2 linked regions of the Homo sapiens genome follow. The protein of the gene in region 1 interacts with the protein of each later gene in a biochemical or structural test. Each region holds a gene or a part of one and is shown on either strand. Other genes may lie near its edges. The genes, in order: PJA2 and PRKAR2A.

Region 1 (16,596 bases):
ATGGAAACTGTGGAAGCCAGGAAACAATAGGGGTACATCTTTATAGTGCTCCAAAAAAGAAAAAAAAAAGGTGTCTAATGTAGAATACTATTCTCATTTGAATATCCTTCAAAAACAAAGACAATTTTAGACAGACAGAAGCAGAGAGGGAAGTTGTCACCAGCAGACTCATAACAAACATTAAAATATGTTATTTAGGCTAAAGGAACATCAGACAGATGGAGGCATGGAAATGGAATAAGTAGACATTTTCAGAAAGGGATATTGAAGATTATTGGGTGTTTGAAACAGTCTTGATAATGTTTGGTGGGGCTTACATGTAGGGTGAGCTATATGAAGATAACAACCATGGACATGGAGGAGTTAAACTGTTATGTGAGTTTCTTTCATTTTTTGGGGACCTGGTAAAAGAACTACAGACAGTGCTCAACTGGTTTCGTTTATGATTTTTCAACTTTACAATGGGTTTAGTAGGGTCTTTAATGCATTTTCAACTTAATAATATTTTCATTTTACAGTGGATTTGTCAGGGCGTAACCCCATTTTAAGTCCAGGAGCATCTGTAGTTTGAAGTAGACAGTAAGAGTGTAGGTTACACTTTGATATAAGGACAAGCTGAAATGGACTTGCCCAAACATAAACCAAAACCAGACTTCTGTGATGTTAAGACAATCTACTTGCAATATAATTGCCTGCCAAAAGAAAACTTAAAATACTCATTAGAGAAAGGTAAGTTATTTAGAGCTTCTAGGAAATATCATCCAGCATACATCAAGGATACATTTTGTAATTTCTAGGAAAACCACTAAGATAATGATATTTTAAAGGATGTATCAAAAAAGCTAGCAGATGAAATGGAATAATAAAAAAAAATTACCAAGGAATTCAAGAACGGAGGAATAAAGGAACAAAGGACAGGTGAGATGATTGAAAATAATAGCAAGATGGTAGATTTAAACCAGACTACATTGGTAATTATGTTAAATGTGAATGGATTAAATATTCTAACAAAAAGAGAAAGATTATCAGACATTATATATAAGTGAGTAAGACCTACCTATATTCTATTTATAAGAAAAGCACTTTACAAGTAAAGGCACAGGTAAAATGAAAAGATGGAATCAGTATTGTTGCAAATACCAAAAGAAAGCTGATGTGGCTATATTAATACCAGACAAAATAGATTTAAGGAGAGAAGTGTTATGAGAGATAAGAGAAAAAAAAATCATGATGAGTGGGCCAATTTATCAAGAAGACATAATTCTAAATATGTTTTCACATAGTAACACAGCTTCCAAATATGTAAGACAGAAGCTAAAATAGCTAAAAAGAAAGGTAGATCTGTATTCCTAGCTGGAGATTTTAAATACATTCAAAGTAACTGGTAGAACAATAAGATTTAAAAAAGTTTTAGTAAAGGAATAAGAAATTTGAATGGTATGATTAATCAACTTAACCTAATTGACATTTATAGAACATTATATTCAACAACTGAAGGCTTTACATTATTTTTAAGTGCATATGGGACATGTGCAAAAATATTCTGGGTCATAAAGTAGTATCATTAATCTTCAAAGAATTTAAATCATACAATGCATGTTTTCTGATCACTATAGAATTATATTACAACCCAATAACAAAAAAAAAAAAATAGACTGCAAATATTTGGAAATTAAGCAAGACACTTCTGAGTAGCCTGTGGATGAAAAACAAAGTCACTGTGGAAATTAGAAAACATTTTAATCTGAAAAATAATAAAAATAATACGTATCAGAACTTTTGGAATACAGCTGAAGCAATGCTTAGAGGTAACTTTATGCTTTAGATGTATAAATTAGTAAAGAACAAAGGTTTACAATCAGTAGTCTAAGCTCCTATCTCAAGGGAGCAATGAATTAAACCCAAGGAAGTAGAAAGAAGGAAATAGTATAAAAGTAGAAATCAATGAAACAGGAAAGTTTTACAGTCAGTTAGTTAAGAAAACTTTTAAAAAATGAAAACCTGTAATGACCTGATTAAGAAAAATGAGAGAAAACACAAATTACTAGTAACAGGGATGAAAAAAAGAGACTTCACTACAGATCCTCTCTATATTAAATTGTTAATGAAAGGGAATTATGTACAACTTGATAATACATTTGACAACTTGAATGAAAGGTCATAATCCCTGAAAAACACAGTTTAGTCAGCTGACATATAAAGAAATAGAAAATCTGAGTTGTTCTGTGTCTATTAAGGTAGTTGAATTTATCAAAAACCTTTCCACAAAGAAAATCCTAGACCTGATGGCTTCACTGACAAATCTGCCTTACATTTAAGTAAGATATAATCCTGGGTTTACACAGACTCTTCTAGAGAACAAGAAGAAGATAGAAAGATTTATTTGCATATTTTATGACTTTAGTATAATCTTGATAGGAAAACCTGACAAAAGCATGACGAGACTATTTTAAGCCAATATTTCTCATGAACATAGGTAAAAGAATAATCCAGTGAGATATAAAAGGGTTAATGTATTGTGACCAACATGGATTTGTTTGGGGAATGTAAAATAGCTTTCTAATAACATTTGTCATAGTTTGTCATAAATGCATTTTGTCATAAAGTTTGTAGTTCTTAATTTATATCTCAGTTGTGATAATAGGTGTAAATTATCAAAATTCCGTGTGTCTAAGGAATTCATTCACTAAAAGGAAATGCAGGGTAAGTTAATTATACAAGACTGATTTAAGAGGAATTTTAAATGTTTTTAGGGCATTTTGGAGGCATATATGTAAATATAAATATGAGAGAATAAAAAATATTCTAATGGACTTGGAAGAGTAACCAAGACTTTTCCTTCAAGTAAGGATCAAATTGTATTTGATTCTCAACCTTTTTTTTCTAGAAAAGATACTTTAAAAGTGAGTTATTTCTGGCTCCCAGCAGATGAGTCATAAGGGTGTAGATCCACGCTATCAGTTGAAACCCTTCTTCTGGAAGTTTAGCTGATTTTTGTCTCCCTGTGCCTAAATCTTCATTTTAATTTACATTGTTTGTATTTGTTACCTGTTGCAGGATAAGAGAGTAGAGTAACTTGTTGTCCTGCAGTGGACATAGCAACTCAGACATTTATCATCACATAGTCCCAGTGGGTTCGAAATTCAGGAGCAGCCTGGTTGCTGATTTTGGTTCAAGTCTCTCAAGAGGTTGCAGTCAAATGTAGGCTGGGACTGCAGTCATCTGAAGGGTAATGCACTAGGGCATTACCCTTTCCAGGTTGCTCATCCATGTGGCTGTTGCCGGAAGACCTTAGTTTTTGTGGATTTTGTCAGGAACGGTCAGTATTTCACCATGTGGGCTTTCTGTGGGTCTACTTGAGTGATATCATGATGTGGCAGCTGGTTTCTTCCAGAAAGAGTGAGCAGAGAAATTAAGGAAGCCACAATCCTTTTATTACCCTATTCTTGCACATCACACACAGTCACATCCATCACACTGTCTTCATTAGAAACAAGTCACAAGAGAGGGCTCTAATACTGAGAGCAGTTTATTAACTTGCCTAAATGAAGTTTGAATCCATGTGTGCCCAAATACTTAGCCCTCTTTTTCCATTATGTGACCACATTTCCATCAGAGAAAGGAGCACAGAATTATCTCATTCATTCATTCGTTTGTTCAGTAACTGTTTAAATATACTGTCAGACAATGTACTAGACAAAGTGTATGTAAATAAAAAATAAACAGGCCTTTGTCTTTAAATTCACTAGTTTACTGTGAGAAGTGTACCTTACATGTCCATGTTCTTCCTTGCATTCTTTAAAGATGATTCCTATTGTCTGTCCAGATCTGTTGGCATAATATCCTGGTTGAAATGATAAAGTGATTACTTCTAGGTTAATAATTCAGAGATCCAGAAATTAATACGTCCTTGATTGAGTCCTTTAATTCTTAGCAACACGTTTATATATTTGTTTTAGTATTAGTAAGAAGTATGTAAAAACCCCGAATTGTTTGAAGTGACTAATTGTCACAAGTAGAGAGCAGTCTGTTATAAACATGTTAGGTGAATAGTACCTGGAGGAAACAACTAATCAGCAAAGGAAATGTCTATTTAGAGAAAAACTAGGTGTTCCCAATTTACCTTAGCTACAAATTTGGACTGATTAATCATTTTAATCTTGACCCTAGCTATGGTCTTTATTCCCTACTTATCTCTTCCCTGTTTTGCTTTTTTTCTTATTTTTTATACTTAGAGATAGAAAGTGGTAGACGGAATATAGAGGTCTCGGATTAAGTAGAAATAATTAGTATCTACAGAGAGATTCTAGTCTATATTCATAACACAAGAACTACTATTAAATAATAATCACAGAATAAGAAAGTATGAGAAATTAAAAAGATTGTTACAGAGAGTAATGACAGGCTAAGAGAATAAGGAAAGGCTAAGGGAAAGAAGTAAAAATGAGTGAAATCTCCCAGTCTGTAGAGTGAAAATATGAAAGAAAAGTTTAGAGACAAATGATTAACCCATTTGGGCCAAATAAAGAAAAAGTAGTGAGGAAAAAGATGTATTTGAGACGTGTACAAGAGTCTCTAAATTAAAATAGCTCTTCCAGTGCTGTGTAGGAAAAATTTAAACATGGCCTGCCCCAAACAAGTCTTTGTGAAATTATAGAATACCAGCTATTTAGATAGACCCTAAATATTCCAGACAGAAAAATTTGGTGTTTCTACAAAATGAGGATAAATAGGTAGACAGGTAGGACACAGTGCCTTTCAGAGTTTAGAAAAAATGATTTTGTCTTGAACTGTACTAAAGTATGAGGGAGATAGTATTTTCAGATGTCCAAGGACTCAGTGTTTGCCTCCAACATATACTTGTTGAAACCATTATTTGAGGATCTTCCAGTAAAGGGAAAAAAAAAATGATAAAAACATGGAATTCAAAGTAGGGTACTTAACCTGAGCGGGTAGTACAATCAAAAGATTTCCACAGAAGTAGCTGATTAATAGCCCTTGAAAACACGTAGACTAAATTTAGATCAGGATGTTAGACGGCTCCGAAGAGTATCTTTAAGAAGAAAAGTGGAATCACATTAAAGAAAAGTTTAAGAAACAGGGTGATTTCCATGATTTCTGTACTGTTTCCAATTCCTTTCCTCTCTTTAGTAGCATTCCTATCAGGCATTTGCACCAACCATGCTACCAAAGGTGCCGCCATTCGCCATTATCCTCCATGTTGCTAAGTGGTCAGTGATAGGCCTTCATCATACTTTAACTTTTGGCACGATCAGTTCTGCCTAAAACACTTTCTTCACTTGGTGTTCACACTTCAGTATTTTTCTTTTCTCTCACTGCCCTCTGTTGTTTTTTCTGCTATAGGTTAAGCATCCCTAATTCAAAAATTTAACATTTGAAAAATGTTCCAAAATCTGAAACTTTTTTTTTTTTTTGAGACAGAGTCTCACTGACCTCAGGTGATTGCTTGCCTTGGCCTTCCAAAGTGCTGGGATTACAGGTGTGAGCAACTGCACCTGGCCCCAAAATCTGAAACATTTTTACTGCCAATATGGCACCATAATTTTAACATTCCACACATCAGTACTTAACAGAAGCTTTATTTCATGCACACAATTATTAAAAGTATTGTATAAAATTACTTTCAGACTGTGTGTGTAAGATGTGTAGGAAACAAGTGAATTTTCTGTTTAGACTTGGATGTCATCCCCACGATATCTCATTATGTATATGCAAATATTCAAAGATTTGAAAAAATCCCAAATCCGCACTTCTGGTTCCAAGCATTTTGGAAAAGGGATACTCAATCTCTGCTTCTTTTTCCCTGGCCTCTTCATATTTGATTTTCTCAGGGCTTAACTTCACTTCTCCATGTACACCTAGAGATCTCATCCAAGTTCATACCTGTTTTGGTATAATCTATACACTGACAACTCCCAAATTATACTAACAGCTCATAATTCTTCAGTCAACACCAGACTCCTATTTAATATTTCCATTTGAATGTCTAATAGATATCTCAAACTTAACTCATCCAAAACTGAACTGAATATATTTTCTTCAAATCTGGCTCTTCCACAATTTTTCCTACATTAATTGAAATTTACTCCATTTTTCCCATTGCCCAGCCTGTAAAACCTGGAGTCAACCTCGACCTTCTTTCATATCCTATATTAGTAAATTTTGTTGATTGTATTTTTACAATATGTCCAGAATCTGGTCATTTCTTACCATCTTTATTTTAACCCTGGTCCAAACCACTATGATCTCTTACCAGTATTATTTTGATAGCTTTTTAACAGTGCTCCCTGCTTTAGACCTCATTCCTCTTCATGCTATTCAATACAGTAGCCAGAGCATTCTTCTTAAAACAGAAGTCAAATATCTCTTCTGTGGTCAGAACTTTGATGGTTTTCCATCTCAGAATAAAACGCACATTTCAGCCAGGCACTGTGGCTCATGCCTGTAATCCCAGCACTTTGGGTGGCCAAGGCAGGTGGATCACGTGGTCAGGAGTTTGAGACCAGCCTGACCAATATGGTGAAACCCTGTCTCTACTAAAAATACAAAAATTAGCCGGGCATGGTGGCACACGCCTACAGTCCCAGCTACTGGGAGGCTGAGGCAGGAGAATCACTTGAACCCGTGAGGTGGAAGTTGCAGTGAGCCGAGATCAAGCCCCTGCACTCCAGCCTGGGCGACAGAGCAAGACTCGCCCTCAAAAAAAAAAAAGTTAAAACACTGTTAATTAGCACCTATGTTTTTGCCAGTATGTTAAGATTATTATTATTTTTATATTCCTTTTCTCTTTAGCTGTTGCTAACAGCCTCTTTTGATTCAGATACTTTAAAGGATCATAACTTGTTACTGAATTTATAAATTATATGGGTGAATGTGGGTTTGTACTCTTACGTATGTTAATATATATCTGTCTGTGATTAGACAGGTAACATATAAATTAAACTCATTTGCAGAGCTATTGCATTAATGATGAGCAATTAGCAGTAGCTCAAGTGTTTAAATAAATAAGGTGTTTAAATAAAAACTTAACCAAACTTTCAAAAAAACCACAGGTTGCAACTTCTCAAATAGTACTTTTCAAATAGTAAATAAATGCATTAATTTCAAAACAGAAGTTCTTTTTGTATTTGTTCCATGATAAATTGTAGTTTTTCCTGATTGAAAATAGGTTCTTATTTGGGATTAAATTATCTGATCAACTGACTATTGCAAAGAATAAATACATCATTATTTACACACATTAATTATTGTTATAAGCCATTACACATTTTTAAAAAATGAAGTTTGTATTCTTACAGTTACCTTTTAGCAATTCCAGGGCTAAAGGAACTTTACTGCTTGACAGAGAAGCAATGATAGCACAGTGTAGTAGACTCCCAAATAGTTTGGTTACATACCTGAGTCAGTACTTCTGATATTTTTGTTTGTTTACTTACAAATTATGTATGTGTTGTTGTCATTGACAGTCTTAAGGATGATATATACTTAGGCAAGGTTTATCAAGAGCAGATGTAAATCTGTATTTCACATAGCCATTTTGGTATTTCTGAGAGTTTTTGATTGGCTTGTCAAATTGTGTTGTATTTTTCTTGTTTTTATTTATTTTTGGGACGGGATCTCACTTTGTCACCCAGGCCTGGAGTGCAGTGGCATGATCTCGGCTCACTGCAGCCTCCACCTCCTGGGCTCAAGCAATCCTCCCACCACAGCCTCCTGAGGGACTAGAGGTGTGCACCACCACGCCTGGCTAATTTTTGTATTTCTTGCAGAGACAGACTTTCACCATGTTGGCCAGGTTGTTCTCGAATTCCTGAGCTCAAACTGATTTGCTCGCCTTGGCCTGCCAAAGTGCTGTAATCTAAGGCGGATCACAGGCATTTGCCACCATGCTGGCTACATCACATTGTATTTTTCTAAGTTTTATTATAAGACTTCACTAGGAGGAGCAGAAGTATCAGTTTTGCTATTTTTGTGCTTTTATTAATATATTGTTCAATTCATTGTTTCTTTGTAGGAATCTTCTGCGGCTTGTCCATAGTGTGAATAAAAACTAAATCACATCTATAATTCTACTGAACTGGTCACACAGACGCTGCCATATATGTCACAGTACACTGAAAAGGAGCCAGCAGGTAAGGAAAGTCAGTTCTTCTACATTGAGTACTTCTTGTTTTTTCCTCTGGGTACCTTGAGTACCAGTAAGTGACATATGATCATCTGACCTGTGGTCTTACTAAAAGGCTGGTTTTGATCCATATATTGAATATTTGTAAAGCTTAGTTTCTAATTTTTGATAGGTAAAAATAGAAATTCTGGTATTTTCTTTCCATACCCATTTAGCTTGGAAAGCTTTATGCTTTCCACTTCGGAGACTATTCTTTTGGTAGAATTGTTAAGGGCATTGGTTCTGGAGTCATACTTTTGGATTATTAGACAAGTTATCCAACACTTAATTTTAACTTTAATTTTTCAATTTTTAAAATAGAATACAATATCCACCTCAAGATTACTGATGGGATTAAATAAGTGTAACACTTGATATTATTTATACTCGATATGTGCGTGTATTATAAATACATGTTTGTTTCTGTTTCCTTCTTGGAAGTGATTATATTTCTTATTTTAATACAACTAAGAAATTATGTAACTGTTTCATTCATTCATTTATTCATTTTTTTTTTTTTTTTGAGATGGAGTTTCGAACTGTCACCCAAGCTGGAGTGCAGTGGCACAGTCTTGGCTCACTGCAACCTCCGCCTCCTGGGTTCAAGTGATTCTCATGCCTCAGCTTCCTGAGTAGCTGGAATTATGGGCATGTGCCACCACGTCTGGCTAATTTTTGTATTTTTAGTAGAGACGGGGTTTCGCCATGTTGGCTAGGCTGATCTCGAACTCCTGGCCTCAAGTGATCCGACTGCCTCATCCTCCCAAAGTACCGGGATTACAGGCATGAGCCACCATGCCCAGCAACTGTTGCATTTATTGACTATACCATATGCTGTGAGAAAATATTTTGTTTAGTTGCTGTGTAGTACATGTAATGTATAATTGACTAAGCAGACTTACACTTAATATATATATGTGTGTGTATAATAATGTACTACTTAGTGAAAGTTGCTGCTGTTTACTACTGTATACCCCTCAGTCAACAAAACTTAATTGTCAAGTCATGTAAATGTTGATGGCTTTTCTTACCATAACATATACCATTTATTGGTAGTTTTGAAGGCAGGGTAGTATGTGTTTGACCTGGCTCATTGCTGTTTTCTTTTGGATAGTTTTATCTGACGTTAATCTTTGGAACATATTTATTGTGATCTAGTTGATTCTTCATGGTACAGATACCATTTAAAGAGGTTACTTGTTATCTTTGACATAAATGTTTTCATTCTTAAAGTAATTGAAACCATCATATCATAATGCTAGTAATTGATTCATCAAATATGTATTGAGCACTTATATTAATATAATATATAAGGTACTTAATTTGGAAGATCTCCCATAAAGAGCTTTGGCAGTATAATAATTTGGCATATGAAAAATATTTTTTGATAGGTTTCATTATAAAAATCTGAAATACCTTAAAGAAACCAAATTTTAAAACATATTTTTTGAAGGGAAAAGGCCACTAACTCTTATTATATAGTACTTCATATTTAATTTTCTAGTGTGTGAAGAATAATGTTTTATAGTACTAGTAAGGTACACTTCATGTTCAGAAGCATATGATTTGATAAATAATAAAATATAAACTGAAGTAGTTTTCCCCAACAGGTTGCAAGAATAAAGCTCATTGCTGTTCCTGTTTTAATTTTTTAACTTTTTTTTCAGCAATGGACCAAGAATCTGGTAAGGCTGTCTGGCCCAAACCAGCAGGAGGGTATCAGACAATTACAGGCAGGAGATATGGAAGAAGACATGCTTATGTCAGTTTTAAACCATGTATGACCAGACATGAAAGAAGCTTAGGTCGGGCTGGTGATGACTATGAAGTGTTGGAACTAGATGATGTTCCAAAGGAAAATTCCTCAGGTGTGTAACATTTAATTATTTAAAGGTTATTAATAGTTATATAGGAATTGATCTTATAATTAAATTTTTGGGTGGGTATTATGCATGTCTGTGAGTGTAAATGCAGCACACTTCCTATCAAGAAATTCTATTTTGAAATTCTTATTGAATTTAATATTAATGGTGTATATATTTAAACATTGTAGAAGAAAATAGAATACAGCCAATCATTAAAATATAACCACACTCTCATAGTAGTGATTACGTTGTCATAACCTCCAGCCAAAGGAAATCATCTTTGAATCAAAAAGATATATTTTGAAATTTTTAAAAATGTGGATCAAGTAGAGATATTTTTTCCCTGCATATAATATTTAAATAACTTTTCTTCTTCTTCTTTTTTTTTTTTTGAGATGGAGTCACGTTCTGTTGCCCAGGATGGACTGCAGTAGTGCATCTTGGCTGACTGCAACCTCCATCTCCCAGGTTCAAACAATTCTTGTGCCTCAGCCTCCTTAGTAGCTGGGATTACAGGTGTTTGTCACTGCACCCAGCTAATTTTTGTATTTTTAGTAGAGACAGGGTTTCACCACGTTGGCCAGGCTGATCTCAAACTCCTGACCTCTCAAGTGATCCACCTGTCTTGGCTGGCTTCCCAAAGTGCTGGGATTACAGGTGTGAGTCACCATGCCTGGCGTTCTTTTTTTTTTTTTTTTTTTGAGATGGAATCTTACTTTGTCATCCAGGCTGGTGTGCAGTGACGTGATCTGGGCTCCCTGCAGCCTCCACCTCCTGGGTTCAAGTGGTTCTCCTGCCTCAGCCTCCCAAGTAGCTGGGACTACAGGCATGCGCCTCCACGCCTAATTTTTGTATTTTTTGGTAGAGATGGGGTTTTGCCATGTTGCCCAGGCTGGTCTCGAACTCCTGACCTCAAGTGGTCCGTCCAACTCAGCCTCCCAAAGTGCTGGGATTACAGACATGGGCCATTGTGCCCGGCCAACTTTTCTTCTTTTAATTTTATCCTAAATTTAACTTGGCTTGTTTATTTTTTCATCATTTTACAAAATCCAAAGGACAAGGAAGGCTTATTCAATTAAAATTTCTTAGTTATTCAATGGTTTTGAAAAAGTATTTTGCAGCTATCCATGTACCATAATTGCACATTTTTGGACTGGATTTGTCTTCTTCCTCTTGTTCTAAGCAAACTTGACAAGACATTTCTAGATTATTTTTGCTGTCATATGTAAGAATCTGAATTACTAGCTAGGGTCATCCCATTGAAGAACCCTTCGTTCCCAGCTACTTGGGAGGCTGAGGCAGGAGAATGGTGTGAACCTGGGAGGCGGAGCTTGCAGTGAGCCGAGATCATGCCACTGCACTCCAGCCTGGGCCACAGAGCAAGACTCCGTCTCAAAAAAAAAAAAAAAAAAAAAAAAAGAACCCTTCGTACCATATATCAAAGAACCCTTCGTACCATATATCATGGCCGAACTTCAGTTATTTTACAATTCATGAATTTTTATTCCAGCAAATCTCAAATGTCTTCATTTTTTTTATTAGTGGTGATGCAAGATAGTTATGCTTAAAGTAATTTATAGATATGATTTTACTCATGTTTCAGAATTCTCACAATTATGACAAGAATCAACATATTGATCTCTTTGTTGTTTTTCAGTCATAACTATAACACATCTAAAGTAAACTTATTACAAATGTATTACAACAATTCAATTTATAATCTGTCGAGATACTGAGATATAATTTTGTGAATTGCCAACAAAACACAATAGGGTCTAATTTCTCTTAAATCTGTAACTATAGTTATTATATCTGTCATAAGTACTTTTGAAGGTTTTTTGTTTTGTTGTTGTTTTTACCTGCATATAATAAAGAAGGTAAGTTTGGAAATCACTGGGAAGCAGATTGGTTACCCTAGACTCCACTTACGAGAGGCTTCCCATTGTATAACCTCTCAAGAGCTTCTCCTTTATATGTCTTGCAGAAGGCATTAGATATTAGGATTTAGATAGAAAACTGCCAAAGCCATGTGAGGGAGATGATAGTGAAAGGCTGTACATTGACATAAATGAACTCATAGAGTAATCAGTCTGCATTCTCAGTTAAGGAGCATAGAAGTGCTTGGTAAATAAATTTACTCATGTATTCAAGTAGTAATAATTGGTATGATTTCCACTTAAGTGATAGTTATTACATAAAATTTTATCTAAGTTAATCCTTTAAAATATGTTTTCTTTTGTTTTTTATGAAGGTTCCAGTCCTTTGGATCAAGTTGATTCTTCTTTACCCAGTGAACCTATATTTGAAAAAAGTGAAACAGAAATTCCCACTTGTGGTTCAGCATTGAATCAAACCACTGAGAGCAGTCAATCCTTTGTTGCAGTACATCACAGTGAGGAAGGCAGGGATACCTTAGGAAGCAGTACAAATCTTCATAATCACTCTGAGGGAGAGTATATTCCAGGAGCTTGTAGTGCTTCAAGTGTCCAAAATGGAATTGCATTGGTTCATACAGACTCTTATGATCCAGATGGCAAACATGGAGAAGATAATGACCATCTTCAACTTTCTGCAGAAGTCGTGGAAGGTAGTAGATACCAGGAATCATTAGGCAATACAGTATTTGAGTTGGAAAACAGAGAGGCAGAGGCATACACTGGTCTTTCACCACCAGTTCCCTCATTTAACTGTGAAGTAAGAGATGAGTTTGAAGAGTTAGATTCTGTACCATTAGTGAAAAGTTCTGCTGGTGATACTGAGTTTGTCCATCAGAATAGCCAGGAAATTCAGAGGTCTTCTCAAGATGAAATGGTTAGTACGAAACAACAAAATAATACTAGCCAGGAAAGACAGACAGAACATTCACCTGAAGATGCAGCCTGTGGTCCAGGGCATATTTGTAGTGAACAAAATACCAATGATAGGGAAAAGAACCATGGAAGTTCTCCTGAACAGGTAGTGAGGCCAAAAGTTAGAAAACTGATAAGTTCAAGCCAGGTGGACCAAGAAACAGGTTTTAATAGGCATGAGGCGAAACAAAGAAGTGTTCAAAGATGGAGAGAGGCTTTGGAAGTTGAGGAAAGTGGCTCAGATGACCTCTTAATAAAATGTGAAGAATATGATGGAGAGCATGACTGTATGTTCTTGGATCCACCATACTCAAGAGTTATTACACAAAGGGAAACAGAAAATAACCAAATGACATCAGAAAGTGGAGCCACAGCAGGAAGGCAAGAGGTGGATAACACCTTTTGGAATGGCTGTGGAGATTATTACCAACTCTATGACAAAGATGAAGATAGGTAAGGTCACATCCAGTACTTTTTCCGATTGTGTAGTAAATGAAGTGGTTTCTTTCTAGAACCATGTTTGATGGCTGGGCTATTTGATATGATCAGGGAATTAGACATTTTGACTTACCAAATATTTTTATTTACTGAATGCTAACCATACATGCAAACTACTCATTAGAATTTTTCACAAAAAAATGTTTTTGAGGTTTTTAGTAGTTTACAGAAGTAAGTTCAGATAATGATTATTATTATAAAGGGATAGAGATGCTAGTTCATGGTATTTCAATTAATAAAATGTAAAATAAACATTTGTTGTATTTTTTAAAAACCTACATTAAGCCAGTCTGGGTTTAAAAAGTGATTAATATCACAAATTATTGATTGGTAATACTTCATTAACATTGCCAGTAGTGACTAATATCACTTGTTTCCCTCTTTATCTGTTCTTCCTGTGGCTCTTCCTATCACTAAGTTTATTTTTTACTTATTTTTTCTTAGCATTCAATTCTCATTAACAACTCTGTGTGGTAGATTCCATTATTTCCCTCATTTGTAAATAAGGAAACTGAGGCACAGAGCATTATATAACTTCCTAAGGTCACAGAGCAACTTAATGGTAGAGCTGGACTTTGAGTACCTAACTGGGTATTCCAGAGACTGTTCACCACTATTCTTTGCTATTTTCAACAGAACATAAAACTTATAATAAGCATTCTGATTGCTCTTACAAACCCGTATCTTTTTTTTCCAAACCATAAGACAACAGAAAAAGAAAAAAATGGAGAATTTCTTTGTTCAGTTGCTGAATTTCCATTACCCCAGTGTCCAGATTTTCATGAGTCCTTGTAAGCTAGTTGCATCCCTGACAGTGCTCAATTACAGTGCAATTGCAAGATTTTATTAGCTAGTGGAAATAATTGTGTGGTTTTTTTTTAGTTAGAAAGTACTATAAAGGAAGAAATTTACCATTTTGAATATGAATGCATTTTAATTCATGTCATAAAACAATTCATTTGATTTTCTTTGGACATATGAATTAAGCTACTATAATACAGATTGTGTAATTTATTATAGAAAATATTTAAAATATAATTTCTGCTGCTCTGTCAAAGTCTGTAAACTTTAAGGGTTAGTAAGTAATTTTTGTATGATATACTGTTTTTAAGCTAAAGGTAAAGTTTTTTTCAGTTCAAGCCCACAGTGTTTTATTCAGTATCCACACTTCTAAAAACAGAAATTGGCCACAAAGCCTGACCTGATGTTAACTTCCTGGATAAGCAGATCTGGATCTGAATTGAAATGAGGGTATTTTTTCAAATATTTGTATATTTTACTGCAGAAATATAGTTATGTTTGATTACTGTGTGTGGCCTGGACCATGTTGGGGTTTGTTAAGTAGTAGTTCTAAATCTGGGAAATATATATCAAAATTCCAAAACACATTTAGCCCTAAGATTTTGAAATAGATTGCAAGTCTCTAATATTATACCTCTAGGTTACTATTTTTAAAAAAAGACAAAACTTACAGTCTTTGATAATTTATTTTTTTGAAAGTGTAAGGTGCTTGTATTTTTTTTCCCCCAGTTACACTTTTTCTTCTTTAAGGAGAATCATTTAATTTGGCTATACCTTTGTCATTTTGGGCAAAATAAATACTTCTCTTCTGCTTGCTTTTTATAGTCAGTTATAATGTCTTATGATGAAGTTGATGAAATTGTTACATTGTTTGCCAACCCCTAGAGAAAGGTAGTCTTCCTGGCTCCTTGATTTTAAATTGATTTTCTTTGTTTTGGGGGTGGTCAGTGGTGGAAGTGTATTCTTTGCCTTGAAGGACCCTGGACTTTTCATAGTTATAAGGTATTTTCTTAGTTATTTGTAATTCTTATTCTTATTTTTAATTTTTTTCTTAAGTGATGTCAATATTCTGAACAATGATAGTTTTTTTTTTTTTTTTTTACAAACAATATATAGATGGGAAAAAACATTTACAGTTAATAGAAACTGTCCTTTTAAATTGCTAGTAATGTATTGACTACAGAGCCTGTGGTTAGGGTATGCCAAAATGATGGAACTACTTTAGGATCATTGTTTAAGACACATTGAAATGCTTAAAAGTTTCTTGTTTCGTTTTGTTTTAAAGAATCATAGAATAAATTCTAAAGGATAATGGTTCTGCCTAGGACTGTACTTATATTTTTATCCATAGCCTTAAGATATGTTTTACGATCTCAAAGTGTCTGTACAGTTTTCTGTACAGATTATTCTATTTCTGAACAGAAACTCTGTTTCTATGCTGCTGTGTCCTGTTCCTCTACCCTAATTCCCTGCAAAGGATTATAGTTGCCAGGGTGCCTTTTTAATATGGTGCCAGCTAAAGGTTGGAATTTAATAGCTGTACACTCCTATTTAGTTTCATTTTGCCCTTGTTCATCTCCCTGATGTTTCATTGTCATCCTCCCTAGTTCTTGTATTTGTAGATTGGAGAGATGGTGATGCTAGTCTTCTCAGGTTTTGGATGGAAAGTATAAGAGCTGCTGCTTAATTTGGGCCTGTGAACTTTGAGTTTTTTTGTAAAGCTTAAAAAGTTGATATACTTGAAAAGTTTTTTTTTGTCATGCTTATAATAGCCAAAGTAGAACTCATCAAGAATATAACTAAAGTTCATTGTGGCATTTTTATTTTTTTATTTTTTATTTATTTATTTCGAGACAGAGTTTCTCTCTGTTGCCCAGGCTGGAGTGCAGTGGCGTGATCTCGGCTCGCTGCAACCTCTGCCTCCTAGGTTCAAGTGATTCTTCTGCCTCAGCCTTCTGAATAACTGGGACCACAGGCATGCCATCATGCCCAGCTAATTTTTGTATTTTTAGTAGAGATGGGGTTTCACCATGTTGGTCATGCTGGTCTTGAACCTGTGACCTCAAGTGATCCACCCGCCTCAGCCTCCCAGAGTGTCAAGATTACAGGCGTGAGCCACTGCACCCGGCCAGCATTTTTAGATATAGGAATTTTGGCTACTTTTTAAAAATATGAATTATATATTCTTTTTAAGTAGAAAAGTATTTTAATGAATTCATGATTGCCTTCTTCCCTGAAAAATTCTAAATGATCATTTAATCACATCTGAAATGTTACACTCTGTGGGATAAACATTGCAGCCAGTAGCATTGCTCTGAGCTGTTTGACAGGTACTGAGCACCACCTTATTAAATTAGGATTCCAAGGGGAATTTTAATAGGCAGCATATAATTACCAG
Region 2 (16,596 bases), on another chromosome or scaffold:
TATGCTAAATCTATACTAAATGGGCTTAAACATGGGTCTTTGCCAGTCACACACCTCACATAACAATGATGGTTTGGTGTATTCAACACACTTCACATTATTTAAAACAAATAGTTACTTTTTGTGTGTACACCATCACATATAAACTGATAAACTCACCCTGCTTCTAATCAAGATGCTCACTTCGCCAGACTCTATGATGTAAAAGCTATCAGCCTTTTCACCCTGAAAGAAAAGAGAGGTCAGGTCAGAGCCATAAGTAGTATTGAAGGGGAATAAAGAAATAGATTGCTTTTTCACTGCTTAAGCTCTGATTTGTATTTATTTTTTAACTCTGCAAATGAATCAATAGTAAACAAATTCAGAGCAGGCAATGAGACCTTGCCTCTTAGGAAAAGGAAAAAAAAAAGAGCTTGAGAAGGTGAGATTTGAGCAAATATTGGGAGGACGTCTGAGTCAGGCATGCAGATATACGCGAAGCAGCTTTCAGGCACACTTCAGTTTCTGACCCCTCACTATTAACTTGTGGAACAAACACCATCTACATCAGATAACGCATTATTACTCATGCACTCTCACTCTGTGTGGGTCTTTTGTCTTCACTGAGAATCTACTTCTGAGGCTTTCACAAACTTCATGCCCTTTGACCATCACACAGAGCCCCAAGTGGGCACCATACACAGCTAGGCTGATGTTTCTGAGTTAATCTAGTCCCAGGACGTATCACTGCCCCATATGAGTAAATGCCACAGCTTTACAAAGGGGTGCCTGTGGGTTTCTGCCCTGCTATGTTGGGTAGGTATCTTAACAACCAGCAGAGCCAAATCACCATGAAGTTCTAGCATTACACAAACAGCTTCATGATAGGAGCTGACAAAGGATGAACAGCCATGAAAGAAACTTAGTAGGAGCCAGAGGCAGAGTCACAAAGAGGGAGAGGTACTTCACCAAGAAGAGGGTGGTGAAAAGGGAAGATCTGTGTGGTAGGAAAGATCTGCAAGTGATAGGTGGTGAAGGATAGTGCTTGAGCCCTTTTTGTTTAGATAGGTGTATAACATCCACCATTTAAAGTGGTCACATTTCAAGGCTTGATGACTTTTTACAAATGTATAAACCTGTATAACCACCTCCTAGATCAAAATAGAAAATATATCCGTTCTTCAAAAGGCTCCCTCCGGAGTTCAGTCAAAACTACCACATTCCCACCCATGAAGTAACTATATCTAATTTCTGTCCTTGTAGGTTTTGGCCATTCCTTAACTTAATATAAATGGAATCATATATTTTTTGTATCTGGCTTATTTTAGTCCATATTGTTAGATCACACTTTGAAAGTCTCTGGCTATGCAAGAAATTAGGCTGGTAGCTAAAATAGAAACAAACTGAAGGAAGGAGTGTACGTGTGTTTTGAAGACAGCAAAGGCCAGGCACGGTGGCTCACACCTGTAATCCCAGCACTTTGGGAGGCTGAGGGGGGTGGATTGCTTGAGGCCAGGAGTTCGACACCAGCCTGGGCAAAATGGTGAAACCTTGTCTCTACTAAATACAAAAACAGGCCAGGTGTGGTGGCTCACGCCTGTAATCCCAGCACTTTGGGAGGCTGAGGTGAGTGGATCACCTGAGGTCAGGAGTTTGGTACCAGCCTGACCAACATGGTGAAGCCCCATCTCTACTAAAAATACAAAAATTAGCCAGGTGTGGTGATGCATGCCTGTAATCCCAGCTACTTGGGAGGCTGAGGCAGAAGAATAGCTTGAACCCGGGAGGCAGAGGTTGCAGTGAGCCGAGATCACGCCATTGCACTCCAGCCTGGGCGACAAGAACGAAACTCTGTCTCAAAAATAAATAAAATACATACATGCATACATACATACATACATACACAAAAATTAGCCAGGAGTGGTGGTGCACAACTGTAATCCCAGCTACTTGGGAGACTGAGGCACAAGAATCACTTAAACCTGGGAGGTGGAGGTTGCAGTGATCCGAGGTTGCACCACTGTACTCCAGCCTGGGCAAAAGAGTCAGACTCCATCTCAAAAAAAAAAAAGAAAAAAAGAAAAAAGGAAAAAAAAATGGCCTGGTGCAGTGGCTCATGCCTATAATCCTAGCACTTTGGGAGGCCACGGCAGGCAGACTGCCTGAGCTCAGGAGTTCGAGACCAGCTTGGGCAACATGGCGGCGAAACCCCATCTCTACCTAAACTACAAAAAATTAGCCAGGCGTGGTGGTGTGTGCCTGTAATCCCAGCTACTCAGGAGGCTAAGGCACGAGAATCGCTTGAACCCAGGAGGTGGAGGTCGCAGTAAGCCGAGATTGTGCCACTGCACTCCAGCCTGGGCGACAGAGCAAGACTGTCTCAAAAAAAAAAAAAAAAAAAGAGAAAAGGAAAACAAAATGAAGAAGACAGCAGAGACTAGGGTATGTGTACAGGATAAGAATGACTTAGGGCCTGAGGAGAATGAACAGGGGAGCTCATATAGAATAGAAGCTGCTAATGTTGCTGTGTGCTCACTCCCAGCAGGCTCTCTGGTGAGTACTTTATGTGTATCATTTCATTTTTTTTGCCAAAGAAGTCTAAGAAAGTAGGTACTATTACTATCCAATTTTGTGGATGACTTTCCTCAGAAGCCTGGGGGATAAATAATCTTTCCCTAGCAGGTAGCGTGAGTAGTTGGTAGATTCAGGGTTGAGAGGAGATGGGAAAGAATGTCATCTAGAATACATGAGAAACAAAAAGCCTTGGTTCACCTCTTCCTCTGGACCAAATGAAGGACAGTGAAAGGACTTTGGTCCATTAAATTTTACTGATTTGGTAATACTTCACTACAATGGATTATGATAATGTGAAACAATGCAAGGGGATAAAATTTAAAATAAAACCATGTTTTGATGATTTTAACCATCAGCTGAAAACAGTTGATCTTTGTGGCAGTTAAGGGATGCACTCTTTTGCATTTCCAATCTCATGAAACAGCCTGGTTAGGCTGGGACAGGCTAAATGTGTGGGCCAAGACACACATTTCCTGTTTCCATGCTGTCCAGTGGTGGATATTCTGGGTATACTGGCTGTTCAGGCTTTGTAGGACTGCTGTCATTTTGCAGGGTAGAATGAGATGACTACCCAGTTGGAAAAGAGAGCTCACTGGAAGAGCATCCTGCCCCTTTTTTTTTTTTTTTTTTTGAGACGGAGTTTCACTCTTGTTGCCCAGGCTGGAGCGCAATGGCGCGATCTTGGCTCACCACAACTTCTACCTCCTGGGTTCAAGTGATTCTCCTGCCTCAGCCTCCTGAGTAGCTGGGATTTACAGGCACGTGCCACCACATTCAGTTAATTTTGTATTTTTAGTAGAGACAGGGTTTCTCCATGTTGGTCAGGCTGGTCTCGAACCCCCAACCTCAGGTGATCCGCCTGCCTCGGCCTCCCTAAGTGCTGGGATTACAGGCATGAGCCACTGCGCCCGGCCAAGTATCCTGCTTTTCAAGTTCACTAATAGGCTCTGTGTACACATCTCACAGAAAGAACATTCCATTCTACATTCAACAGTAAAGAAGCCAGACTGTACTGCATTTTAGGTCTTTGTGAACATGTCATCAGGTTCTTATATGTCTCTTTTTCACAACAGATAATATAAGATCCACATTCCACCATAAGAATGACTGAAGCCCTAATTTTCAGGATATGGGAATCTTTTTGGTTTAATGCAATGGTACTTTAATAGCAAAAACATAAAACATGATTTTGTAAAACTAAAGCCACCTTCTGTCTACATTACTCTAAGAATAAGCTAAATATTCTATCAATCATGAAAATTACTTGTGAAAATTATACAAGTCATTAAAAAACAAAAATGTAGGCCAGGTGTGGTGGCTCACGCCATCCCAGTACTTTGGAAGGCCAAGGCGGACAGATCACCTGAGGTCAGAAGCTTGAGACCAGCATGGCCAACAGGCAAAAACCCTGTTCTCTACTAAAAATAAAAAAAAATTAGCCGGGCATGGTGATGCATGCCTGTAGTTCCAGCTACTCGGGAGGCTGAGGCAGAAGAATCACCTGAACTGGGGAGGTGGAGGTTGTAGTCAGCCGAGATTGTGCCATTGCACTCCAGCCTGGACAACAAGAGCAAGACTCTGTCTCAAAAAACAAAACAAAACAAAACAAAACACAAAAATGTAGTCAGGTATGGTGGCACAAGCCTGTAATCTTAGCTACTTGGGAGGTGAGGTGGGAGGATCACTTGAGGTCAGAAGTTCAAGACCAGCATGGGCAACATAGAGAGGCCCTGTCTCTACAAAAAATTTAAAAATTAGCTGGGTGTAGGCCGGGCGCAGTGGCTCACACCTGTAATCCCAGCACTTTGGGAGGCCGAGGCTGAGGTGGGCGGATCACCTGAGGTAGGGAGTTCACAGACCAGCCTGACCAACATGGAGAAACCCTGTCTTTACTAAAAAAAAAAAAAAAAAAATTAGCTGGGCATGGTGGTGCATGCCTGTAATCCCAGCTACTCAGGAAGCTGAGGCAGGAGAATCGCTTGAACACAGGAGGCGGGGGTGGTGGTGAGCTGAGATCGTGGCATTGCACTCTGGCCTGGGCAACAAGAGCAAAACTCCGTCTCAAAAAAAAAAAAAAAAAAATTAGCTTAGTGTGGTGGCATTACTTGGAAGGCTAAGGGAAGAGTATTGCTTGAGCCTAGAAGTTCAAGGCTGCAGTGAGCTATGATTGCACACTGTACTGAAGCCTGAAAGACAGAGTGAGACCTTGCTTCTAATAAACAAAAACAAGGCTGAGTGCAGTGGCTCACACCTGTAATCCCAGCACTTTGGGAGGCAGAGGAAGGAGGATCACGAGGTCAGGAGACTGAGACCATGCTGGCTAACACGGTGAAACCTGTCTCTACTAAAAACACAAAAAATTAGCCGGACGTGGTGGCGGGCGCCTGTAGTCCCAGCTACTTGGGAGGCTGAGGCAGGAGAATGGCGTGAACCCAGGAGGCGGAGCTTGCAGTGAGCCGAGATCACACCACTGCACTCTAGCCTGGGTGACAGAGGGAGACTCCATCTCAAAAAAACAAAACAAAAACAATAAAAATAACTCAAAATGGATCACAGACCTAAGGTAAGAGCTAAAATTCTGACTGTCTAGAGCTGTACTGCTCAATACATTAGCCACGAGTCAAATGTGGCTGAGCACTTGAAATGTTGCTAGTATAAACTTAGATGTGCTATAGATGGAAAACATACATTAGATTTTGAAGACAGTATTAAAAATGTAAAATATCTCATTAATAAAGTTTTATATCACTTAGATGTTGAAACAACATTTTAGATATACTGAGTTAAATGAAATATATTAAAATTAAGTTCACCATTTCAAATATCTACTGAAAGTTTTTATTTATTTATTTTTTTTGAGACCAAGTCTTGCTCTGTCCCCCAGGCTAGAATGCAAGTGGCATGATCTTGGCTCACTGCAACCTCTGCCTCCCAAGTTCAAACGATTCTCGTGCTTCAACCTCCCAAGTAGCTGGGATTACAGTTGTGCACCAGCAAACTCAGCTAATTTTTTTTATTACTTTTTAGTAGAGACGAGGTTTCGCCATGTTGGCCAGGCTGGTCTCGAACTCCTGGCCTCAAGTTATCTGCCTCAAGCTATTCAGCCTCCCAGAGTGCTGGGATTACAGGCGTGAGCCACCCTGCCTGACCAAAAATTTTTAAAATTACATATGTGGCTCACATATTATTTCTATTGAATAGTGCTGGTCTTAGAAGTAAACTTAGGAGAACATATTATTGATTTTGCAAAGATTTCCTAAAATACAGCAGCAAAAGTACACAACTACAAAGAAGAAAAGATGATAAACTGGACTTGTCAAAATTAAAACCATTTTCTCTTCAAAAGATACCATTAAGAAAATGAAGGCCAGGTGCGGAGGTGCACACCTATAATCCCAGCACTTAGAAGGCCAAGGCGGGCAGATGGCTTGAGCTCAGGAGTTCGAGACCAGGCTGGGCAATATAGCAAGACCCTGACTGTAATTTTTTTAAAAAAGGCTGTAAATACTATTTATTGGTGAGAATGCAGAGAAACTGGAATTTTCATACATGGCTGGTAGGAATACAAGACAGTACAGCCATTTTAAGAAACAGTTTGTTATGAAGTTAAAATATAATTTAGCAATTGCACTCTTAAGTATTTACTAAGGAGGCCAGCCTGGCCAACATGGTGAAATCCCATTTCTACTAAAAAAACACACACATGCACAAAATTAGCTGGGCAGAGTGACACGTGCCTCTGGTCCCAGCTACTCGGGAGGCTGAGGCACAAGAATCGCTTGAACCTGGGAGGCAGAGGTTGCAGTGAGCTGAGATTATGCCACTGTACTCCAGCTTGGGCAACAGGGCAAGACTGTATCTCATTAAAAAGAAAAAGTAATGGGAGGCTGAGGCAAGAGAATAGCTTGAACCTGGGAGGTGGAGGTTATGGTGAGCTGAGATTGCGCCATTGCACTCCAGCCTGGGCAACAAGAGGAAAACTCCGTCTCAAAAAGAAAAAAAAATTACATTTGTACAATGAAATATTATTAGCAATAAAAAGGAACGATCTACTGATACATACAACACGAATAAATCTCAAAAATATTATGCTAAGAGAAAGAAGCCAGACACAGAGACTATACATTACATGATTTCATTTATACTAAATTGTAGAAAGGAATTTCTACAGTGACAGAAAACATCAATGGTTTCCAGGAATGTGAGTGTGGGGGAGGGTACTGACTGCAAATACAAAACAAGGAACTGTATGGGTGATGGAAATACCACTTGGGGATGGTTACAAAACTCTTCCGATTTGTACACTTAAACTTAGTAATTTTATTGTATGTAAAATACACTGTAACAAAGCTGATCAAAACAAATGAAACAACATAAAATGTAGTTTCTGATTCAGCAGGTCTGGTGGGGGGCTCCAGAACTTGCATTCCTAACAATTCTAACATCCTCAGATGATGCTGATTGCTGCTGGTCCTGGGACCTCACTTTGAGAAGCCTTGGTCCAGTGAGAGACATTGACAAAAGGGACCTACAATAAGCCCCTTTTAATATCATCTTAATTAATGTCCATTCTGTACCACTACCTATCTACCTTGAAGATAGATAGCACTCTATCTTCAAGAGCACAGACCATGAAGAAAACACTATTGACTTCTCACATCTCCTGACATACTTCCTGAAAACCCAGTATGAGACAGGCCTAGAACCTTCAGGATGACTTGAAGGTCCTTTGAATGTTACTTAAAGCACCTTAGGTTCAGAAGCAAATGTGGCCAGTTAACATCTCCCATTTCTGAATCTCAGCACTACATTCTTACCATACCAGGATACCTGCTCTGAAACACAGCTCACACCACTGGCCTTTGCTAATATTGTTTTCTTGCTCTGAAGGACCTTTCCCTGATCCCAAACATTGAAATTGCACTTGTTTTTTAAGCCCATCTCAAATGGCATTTCCTCAATGAAACCATATGTATTACTTCCATTTCTATGTTCTCACTGTCGTTCATACTCTCCTTCATTATAGTGCTTATCATATCTGGTCCTACCTATCTTAATAAATGTTTATAGAATATTCCAATTTCTAATTAAAAGAATTATTAATAGTAACGGCTCCTAGAAAACAAATACATTTAGAGATGTGACTCAGAGTAGACATCATATTTTTGTTAGTCCTTTATCTCTTCCAAGGGAGCTTTTTTCTCCCCTTTTATGGTAAGTCTGATTAGTCCTTGTGTTCTAGTGGGGCCAACTCCACCCACAGGACCCACACCTGACCAATCTGAGCCTTTCCTCCTCGTAGTCTCAGTACTGGGTTCTAGGATAAGCATATCACCCAACCTAGACCAACCATGTATCTTCTCCGTGCTCTTGAGCCAGAACCATAGGCAGATAAGCTTATACCTGGAAAAGTCCAATACTATTTATGTTTAATTAAAAATACAAACACAGCGGACAAAGAAAATTATCAGACAGTACTCATTACAATGATCTAGCCCACTGTTTAGTAATCTTTACATCTTACAAATTTGGTTAATCACTGAAGACTGTGAACTCTGATTTGTGTTAGATTAGCCAAAAGGATGCCTTTGTGTCAAATATAGAAAGTTAGAGGACAGAACTCTTTAACCTTCCCCAGGTTCTAATAGCAATGGATGAAACTTACTTAAGGTCAAAAGAAAATGACATCAAAAGAACAAACACTAGAAGCCAAGGAAAGGTGAGAGGAAGCAAGAGATCTGCACGTGTCAGTAAGACGGACGTCAATAAGCTTCAGAGGACTACATAATAGTCCTCTGAAGTATGATCTATTACCTGGTAATAAGAGCTCCCAACAGTGGGAGAACATAGAAGGTTTTTTGGTTTTTTTTTGAAATGGAGTCTTGCTCTGTTGCCCAGGCTGGAGGCAGTGGCGCAATCTCGACTCACTGAAACCTTTGCCTCCTGGGTTCCAGCAATTCTCCCGCCTCAGCCTCCCAAGTAGCTGGGATTACAGGCATGGGCCACCACACCCAGCTAATTTTTGTATTTTTAGTAGAGATGGAGTTTTACCATGTTGGCCAGGCTGGTCTTGAACTCCTGGCCTCAAGTGATCCACCTGCCTCAGCCTCCCGAAGTGTTGGGATTACAGGCGTGAGCCACTGCGTCCGGCAAGAAGTTTTTGAGATAAATGATGTACTAGTTCTTCAGGGGTGACTTCCAGGAAAGGAGCTGCGTAAAGCCCTCACTCACCTGAGTGATTATGCGTTCTCCATCCTTATAGATCTTCTCTCCTATTACATCCACAATCTTCATTCGTTCTGACACCTGAAACAACAAATTCACAAATAAAAGGAAAAGACCTTAATTGAAAGTCACAATAGCTATGCAGCACAGAAATAGGATTAGAATAGTATGATTTGAAAACCTAACAACAGAATAGTTTTAAAAGCTTTTCCTGATCCCCATGAACAGATTCTTATTCAAGCCACTTTACCTCTAGTGATTTAAGGAGGGGCACAGACTCAATAAATGATTCAAACATCTTCCTCTTCTTTGCATTATTTTTCACTATGATTCTTCTAAAAGTCACCCGGTCCTACAAGAAAGAATATGAAAATTCTAGTAAATGCCTATATACAGGAACATCTATGGTTTAATTAACTGGCCAAAGCAAATATTAGAGGAATATGTAAGTTACTGTGTTAATTAAGTGTTTAATGATACTTCAATCTTGAGTCATCACTGGAAGTAAAGGACCTATAGCCTGAGCCAGCCAGATGCCCACATGCTGTTGCTTGCTATCTAGCACTCAATAGGTGCCACCTATGGGTCATAAATAGAACCCAAAACAGAAAACACCTAAACATTTATGAGCTCACTGTCACTGTTCAATATCAAAAAAGACACCTCTAGTGAGCCGAGATCATGTCACTGCACTCCAGCCTGGGTGACAGAGTGAGACCCTCATTTCAAAAAAAAAAAAAAAAAAAAAAAAGAGACACCTCACCAAAAGAGAGAATAAAACAATCATTTAATCCTTAGAATCCAGGATTTAAAAAAACTTAAAAAATCCAAAACAATTAGATTGTTCTTGCCTAAAAAAAGAACAATTAGATTGTTCTTACCCTAAAAAAGTTTACAATCTTAATGGGGAGATAATATAAAATATCAAAATATGAAGGTTGGCTGAATGCAGTGGCTCACTGCCTGTACTCCTAGCATTTTGGGAGGCTAAGGTGGGCAAATTGCTTGAGCCCAGGAGTATGAGACCAGCCTAGGCAACATGGTGAAACACGCTCTCTACGAAAAAATACACAAAAAAAGTTAGCTGGGCATGGTGGCACTTGTCTGTACTTGGGTGGCTGAGGTGAAAGGCTCACCAGAGCCTGAGAGGTCAAAGCTGCAGTGAGTTGTGATTGTACCACTGCATTCCAGCCTGGGCAGCAGAGTGACACTATGTCCCAAAAACAACAATATCAACAACAACAACAACAACAACAAAATACATAGGAATAAAAAGTCTACATTTCAAGGACAGGTGCAGTGGCTCACACCTGTAATCCCAGCATTCTGGGAGGCTGAGTCAGACAGATCACTTGAGCTCAGGAGTTCAAGACCAGGCTGTGCAACATGGTGAAACCCCATCTCTACAGAAAATACAAAAATTAGCTGGGCATGGTGGCGTTTGTCTAGTCCCAGCTAGTTGGGAGGCTGAGGCTGGAGAATCACTTGAGCTCAGGAGGCTAAGGTTGCAGTGAGCTGAGATTGCGCCACTGCACTCCAGCCTGGGTGACATAAGTTGAAACTGTGTCTCAAAAAAAAATAAAATAAAAATAAAAAGTCTACAGTTCAAGACAGCATATGAGCATATGAAATGTGCTTGATGAAACTACAGAAGACAAGTGCCACATAAATTTCAAGGTAAGAAGGGGAGATCACAGTAGGCAGGAGTGATCAAAGATTATTTTGCAGCAAAAATGTCTAGGACCTGAAAGAGAGGTAGGATTTAAGTTAATGGAGAGACACGGGAGGAATACGCAAGATGGAAGGCAGGCATATGAAAGATACCTTGACTCTAGCAAGTCATGGATTCCTTCTGTTTTATTTTGAGATAGGGTCCCCCAATGTTGTCCAGGCTGGCTTTGAACTCCTGGGGTCAAGTGATCTCCCCACCTCAGCCTCCCAAGTAGCTGGGACTACAGGTACACAACACTGTGCCTGGCTTAGTAAGTAATGGATTCTGATCAGAAGACAGTTAACCAAACCAGGCACTTCTCAGATATGTGTACACATGTGCAGGGAGATACATGTGAGAATGTTAATTGCTTAGTCTTAGATTCCTAAATGGGCAAGCAGTTATTTGTATCTAAGTTAACTACCTTTCTTCCACCTCAGGCTGTCAGGACTATACATATATACATTTTGTCAGAAAGTATAATAATGGGCTGGGCGCAGTGGCTCACGCCTGTAATCCCAGAACTTTGGGAGGCCGAGGCAGACGGATCGCTTGAGGTCAGGAGTTCAAGACCAGCCTGGCCAATATGGTGAAACCACATCTCTACTAAAAATACAAAAATTAGCCAGGCATGGTGGTGGGCGCCTGTAATCCCAGCTTCTTGGGACGCTGAGACAGGAGAATCACTTGAACCTGGGAGGCAGAGGTTGCAGTGAGCCGAGATCATGCCACTGCACTCCAGCCTGGGTAACAGAGCGAGACCCTGCCTCGAAAAAAACAAAAACAAAACAATATTTTAGGCTGTGTGTGGTGGTTCATGCCTGTAATCCCTGCACTTTGGGAGGCCAAGGCAGGAGGATCGCTTGAGGCTAGGAATTCAAGACCAGCCTGGGCAACACAATGAGACCTCAACTCTATTTAAAACACAAAAACAGGCTGGACGCAGTGGCTCACACCTATAATCCCAGCACTTTGGGAGGCTGAGGCGGGTGGATCACAAGGTCAGGAGATCGAGACCATCCTGGCTAACACAATGAAACCCCGTCTCTACTAAAAATACAAAAAATTAGCTGGGCATGGCGGCACGCGCCTGCAGTCCCAGCTACTAGGGAGGCTGAGACAGGAGAATCGCTTGAACCTGGGAGGTGGAGGTTGCAGTGAGCCAAGATCACACCACTGCACTCTAGCCTGGGAGACAGAGCGAGACTCCATCTCAAAAAAAAAAACAAACAAAAAAACCCCACAAAAACAGAAAACCCCAATATTTTATTTATTTATTTAAAAAAAACCCATACAGGCTGGGAACAGTGGCTCACGACTGTATTCCCAGCACTTTGGGAGGCTGAGGTGGGGAGGTGGGTGGATTGTTTGAGCCCAGAAGTTTGAGAACAGCCTGGGCAACATGGCGAAACCCATCTGTACAAAAAATACAAAAATTAGCCAGGCGTGGTGGCGTGCACTTGTGGTCCCAGTTACTGGGGAGGCAGAGGTGGGAGGATTGCTTGAGCCCTGGGAGGCGAAGTTGCAGTGAGGTGTGAGAGCACCACTGCACTCCAGCCTGGCCAACAGAGTGAGACCGTCTCAAAAGATAGATAGATAGATAGATAGATAGATAGATAGATAGATAGATAGATATAGACAGACAGAGAGACAGACAGACAGACACACACACACACATACATAGATACATAGATAGATAAAATAAAAGGCCTGGCACAGTGGCTCACACCTATAATCCCAGCATTTTGGGAGGCCAAAGTGGGTGGATCACTTGAGGTCAGGAGTTCGAGACCAGCCTGGCCAACATGGTGAAATCTCGTGTCTACTACAAATACAAAAATTAGCTGGGCATGGTGGTGTACACCTATAGTCCCAGCTACTTGGGAGGCTGAGGCATGAGAATTACTTGAACCCTGGAGGCAGAGGATGCAGTGAGCCGAGATCACACCACTATACTCCAGCCTGGGCAACAGAGACTCCGTCTCAAAATAAATAAATAAATAAATATTAAAAAATACACAGAGGGCAGCAAAGTTAACTCCCAATATTTTACAAATCCACCTACAGTGTAACAAAGATTAGTACAATTGCAATAGCAAACAATATTTCGGCTGGGCGCATGGCTCACGCCTGTAATCCCAGCACTTTGGGAGGCTGAGGTGGGTGGATCACTTGAGGTCAGGAGTTCGAAACCAGCCTAGCCAACATGGTGAATTCCCATCTCTACCAAAAATATAAAAAATTAGCCAGTACTGTTGGCACATGCCTATAATCCCAGCTATGCAGGAGGCTGAGGCAGGAGAATTGCTTGAATCCTGGAGGCGGAGGTTGCAGTGAGCCGAGATAATGCCACTGGACTCCAGCCTGGATGACAGAGCAAGAGTCCATCTCAAAAACAACAACAACAACAACAGATTTCTAACTAAAGAGAAAACAACAAATATCTTTCTTTTTTTTTTTCTTTTTTGAGACAGAGTCTCGCTCTGCCACCCAGGCTGGAGTGCAGTGGCACAATCTCGGCTCACTGCAAGCTCCGCCTCCCTGGTTCACGCCATTCTCCTGCTTCAGCCTCCTGAGTAGCTGGGGCTACAGGCGCCTGCCACCGCGCCCGGCTAATTTTTTGTATTTTTAGTAGAGACGGGGTTTCACCGTGTTAGCCAGGATGGTCTCAATCTCCTGACCTCATGATCCGCCCGCCTTGGCCTCCCAAAGTGCTGGTATTACAGGCGTGAGCCACTGTGCCCGACCACAACAAATATCTCTTACAGCGACTTTTTTTTTTTTTGAGATGGAGTTTCGTTCTTGTTGACCAGGTTGGAGTGCAATGGCGCAATCTTGCCTCACCGCAACCTCCGTCTCCCAGGTTCAAGTGATTCTCCTGCCTTGGCTTCCAGAGTAGCTAGGATTATAGGCATGCGCCACCATGCCCAGCTAATTTTGTATTTTTTAGTAGAGACAGGGTTTCTCCATGTTTGTCAGGCTGGTCTCCAACTCCTGACCTCAGGTGATCTGCCCACCTTGGCCTCCGAAGTGCTGGGATTACAGGCACGAGCCACTACGCCCGGCAAGCGACTTTTTTTTTTTGAGACAGAGTCTCACTCTGTCACTCAGCAGGCTGGAGTGTAGTGGCATGATCACAGCTCACTGCAGCCTTGACCTCTTAGGCCCAGGTGATCCTCCCAACTCAGCGTCCCAAGTAGCTGGGACTACAGGCATGTGCCGCCACATCAGCTAATTTCTTATTTTTCATAGAGACAGGGTTTCACCACGTTGCCCATGCTGGTCTTGAATTCCTAGGCTCATGTGATTTGCCCACCGTGGCCTCCCAAAGTACTGGGATTACATCATGAGTCACCACACCCAGCTGGTTCTACCCCTTTTTACGCATGCTTTAACACTTCCCAAAACTCTCTTTTCATGTGGTGCAAGGCCAGTTCCCATGGCTGTGGAGAATATAAAAAAAGCACCAGACATCAACATAGCCTTTGATGAGCATCCAATCGAGCAGTGAAGAGGAAATTCCCACAGGCAGCAAGTGGTCAGAGGCAAGCAAACACCCCTGAAGTTCAAAAGAGAAAAGGAGTGCTACTCTCTCCTGTGACTGCAGGAATTTCCCAGGAAACCTTCTATTGACTTTCAATAAAGCAAGAGAAAGCAAAAGAGACTACGTATAGGGGCCGTGATGGCAGCTGCCCATTATAAAAGCAGGAATGTAGGATCCAACTTGAAAAACTCAGTGACGACACCAGATCCTCCCTACTTCAACCTCAGAAGGCATTTCCAAGGCCAAAGAAGAAGTCAGGCTGGAGAGGACCTTCTGTGAGTTACTTTCCTAGAGGTGGTATTGAAGCTTTGGAAGAGTCTGGGCTTGCAAAGCAAGTCAATTAACAGGAGAAAAGTAGAGGCCAAAAGGATATCTTGATAGGTCACTGACCTAAGAAAGCAAGGAGAAGAGGAAATGACTGCCAAAGGCAAGGAAATAGAAAGAATAGGAGTCTTAGGAAAGGAAGTCTCAGGAAAAGAAGGGTGGTGAGTAGCACCATGGCCATGGGGAGCTTGTGCCATCATTCTGTGAACACCCACCTTGTACCAGGCACTAAGGGAGTCACTTCTCTTATGCCCATGTATTTAATCCTCATACCCCAGCCACAAAGCAGGTGGTTTTACAGCTCAATATACAGTTTTCAATTTTCATTGAGACTTGGTCTTAGAGATTATCCAAGAATGGGTTATTTGGCCGGGTGCGGTGGCTCTTGCCTGTAATCCCAGCACTTTGGGAGGCCGAGGTGGGCAGATCACCTGAGGTCAGGAGTTCGAGACCAGCCTGGCCAACATGGTGAAACTCCATTTCTACTAAAAATACAAAAATTGGCTGGGCGTGGTGGCACATGTGCACACGTCTGTAATCCCAGCTACTCAGGAGGCCGAGGTAGGAGAATCGCTTGAACCCAGGAGGCAGAGGTTGCAGTGAGCCAAGATCATCTCAAAAAAGAAAAAAAAGAAAGAATGTGTTATTTGGCTGGGCACAGTGGCTCATGCCTGTAATTCCAGCACTTTGGGAGGCCAAGGCAGGAGGACTGCTTGAGCCCAGAAGTTCAAGACCAGCCTGAGCAACATAGTGAGACTCTGTCTCAACAACAACAACAACAAAAAGACAGGTGTGGTGGTGCACACCTGTAGTCCCAGCTACTTGGGAGGCTGAGGTGGGAGGATTGCTTGAGCTCAGGAGGTCAAGGCTGCAGTTAGCCCCTGCTCACACCAAAAACAATGTTATTTAATTTCTAAGTGTCTGGAGATCTGTTATTGATTTTTAGTTTCTTTCTTTCAATTGTAGTTAGAGAACACATTCTGATTTCATTTTTTCTTTAAATTTTCATTATTTCTTAAAATTTTAAATAGAGATGTGGTCTCACTATGCTGCCCAGGTAGGTCTCAAATTCCTGGACTCAATCCTCCCACCTCAACCTCCCAAAGTGCTGGGATAACAGGCTTGAGCCACTGTGGTTGGCCTGATTTCAAATCTTTTACATTTTTTAAGTTTTATTTTATATTCCAGGATATGGCCTATTTGGGTGAATGTTCCATGGGCTTGAAAAAAATGTTCATTCTGTTGTTGCTGTGTGCAGTGTTCTATAAATTTCAGATAGCTTTTGTTAATTAATGGTGTTAAGTTCTTCTATATCCTAGCTGACACTAGCTGATTTTCTGTTTAGCTGTTCGTTCTTTTGTTTTGTTTTGTTTTTGAGATGGAGTTTTGCTTTTGTTGAATATACCTGTTAGAAGATCTGGATTTCAGGCTTTCCAGCACCCCATCTGGGATATATGGGAACCTGGGAACTCACTGTCATGTCTTTCCTCAAGCCCCAATATCCCTAGATAGTCTGCCTTCTTCTTTCCACCTTTCAGAGTCTTCCTATGTTTGCTCTATTATGTCCATAGTTGTTTGTGTGTGTGTTTAAGTTTTTAAGTGAGAACACTAGCATGGAATAGGGCTATTCCATCTTGGTCTGAACCAGTAGTTAGCACCAAGGCTTATTATTTGATTTTGTATTTTTTGAGATGGAGTCTTGCTCAGTCGCCCAGGCTAGAGTGCAGTGGCGTGATCTTGGCTCACTGCAACCTCCGCCTCCTGGGACTACAGGCGCCCATCACCATGACTGGCCAATTTTCATATTTTTAGTAGAGACACGGTTTTACCATGTTGCTCAGGCTGGTCTCGAACTCCTGACCTCAAGTGATCTTCCCGCCTTGGCCTCCCCAAGTGCTGGGATTACAGGTGTGAGTCACCGTGCCTGGCCCCCATTATTTATTATTCCCCTATACAAATCTATTCTTGAGTTTTTCAATCATTGAGTCCCCAAGTGTGTGACCTATCCTTAAGTCACTGTATCTCTTTCAGGAGCACTCTTAATTTAACATCAGGATGTCACAATAAAGTGCTTTTTTTTTTGAGACGGAGTCTCGCTGTGTCGCCCAGGCTGGAGTACAGTGGCGCGATCTCGGCTCACTGCAAGCTCCACCTCCCGAGTTCACGCCATTCTCCTGTCTCAGCCTCCCAACTAGCTGGGACTACACATGCCCACCACCACACCTGGCTATTTTTTTTG

Evidence for each region.
Region 2: the proteins of PJA2 (region 1) and PRKAR2A form a complex in vitro, tested with the Homo sapiens proteins (one study listed by BioGRID).

What each region holds. Positions count from the first base shown.
Region 1 is NC_000005.10:109,374,960-109,391,555, reverse strand, and holds part of PJA2 (E3 ubiquitin-protein ligase Praja-2), read left to right. Parts: intron 1-8,035; 5' UTR 8,036-8,122; coding exon 8,123-8,153; intron 8,154-9,852; coding exon 9,853-10,053; intron 10,054-12,301; coding exon 12,302-13,352; intron 13,353-16,596.
Region 2 is NC_000003.12:48,756,220-48,772,815, forward strand, and holds part of PRKAR2A (cAMP-dependent protein kinase type II-alpha regulatory subunit), read right to left. Parts: intron 9,131-16,596; coding exon 9,029-9,130; intron 8,860-9,028; coding exon 8,785-8,859; intron 226-8,784; coding exon 160-225; intron 1-159. UniProt on the Homo sapiens protein: Regulatory subunit of the cAMP-dependent protein kinases involved in cAMP signaling in cells. Type II regulatory chains mediate membrane association by binding to anchoring proteins, including the MAP2 kinase.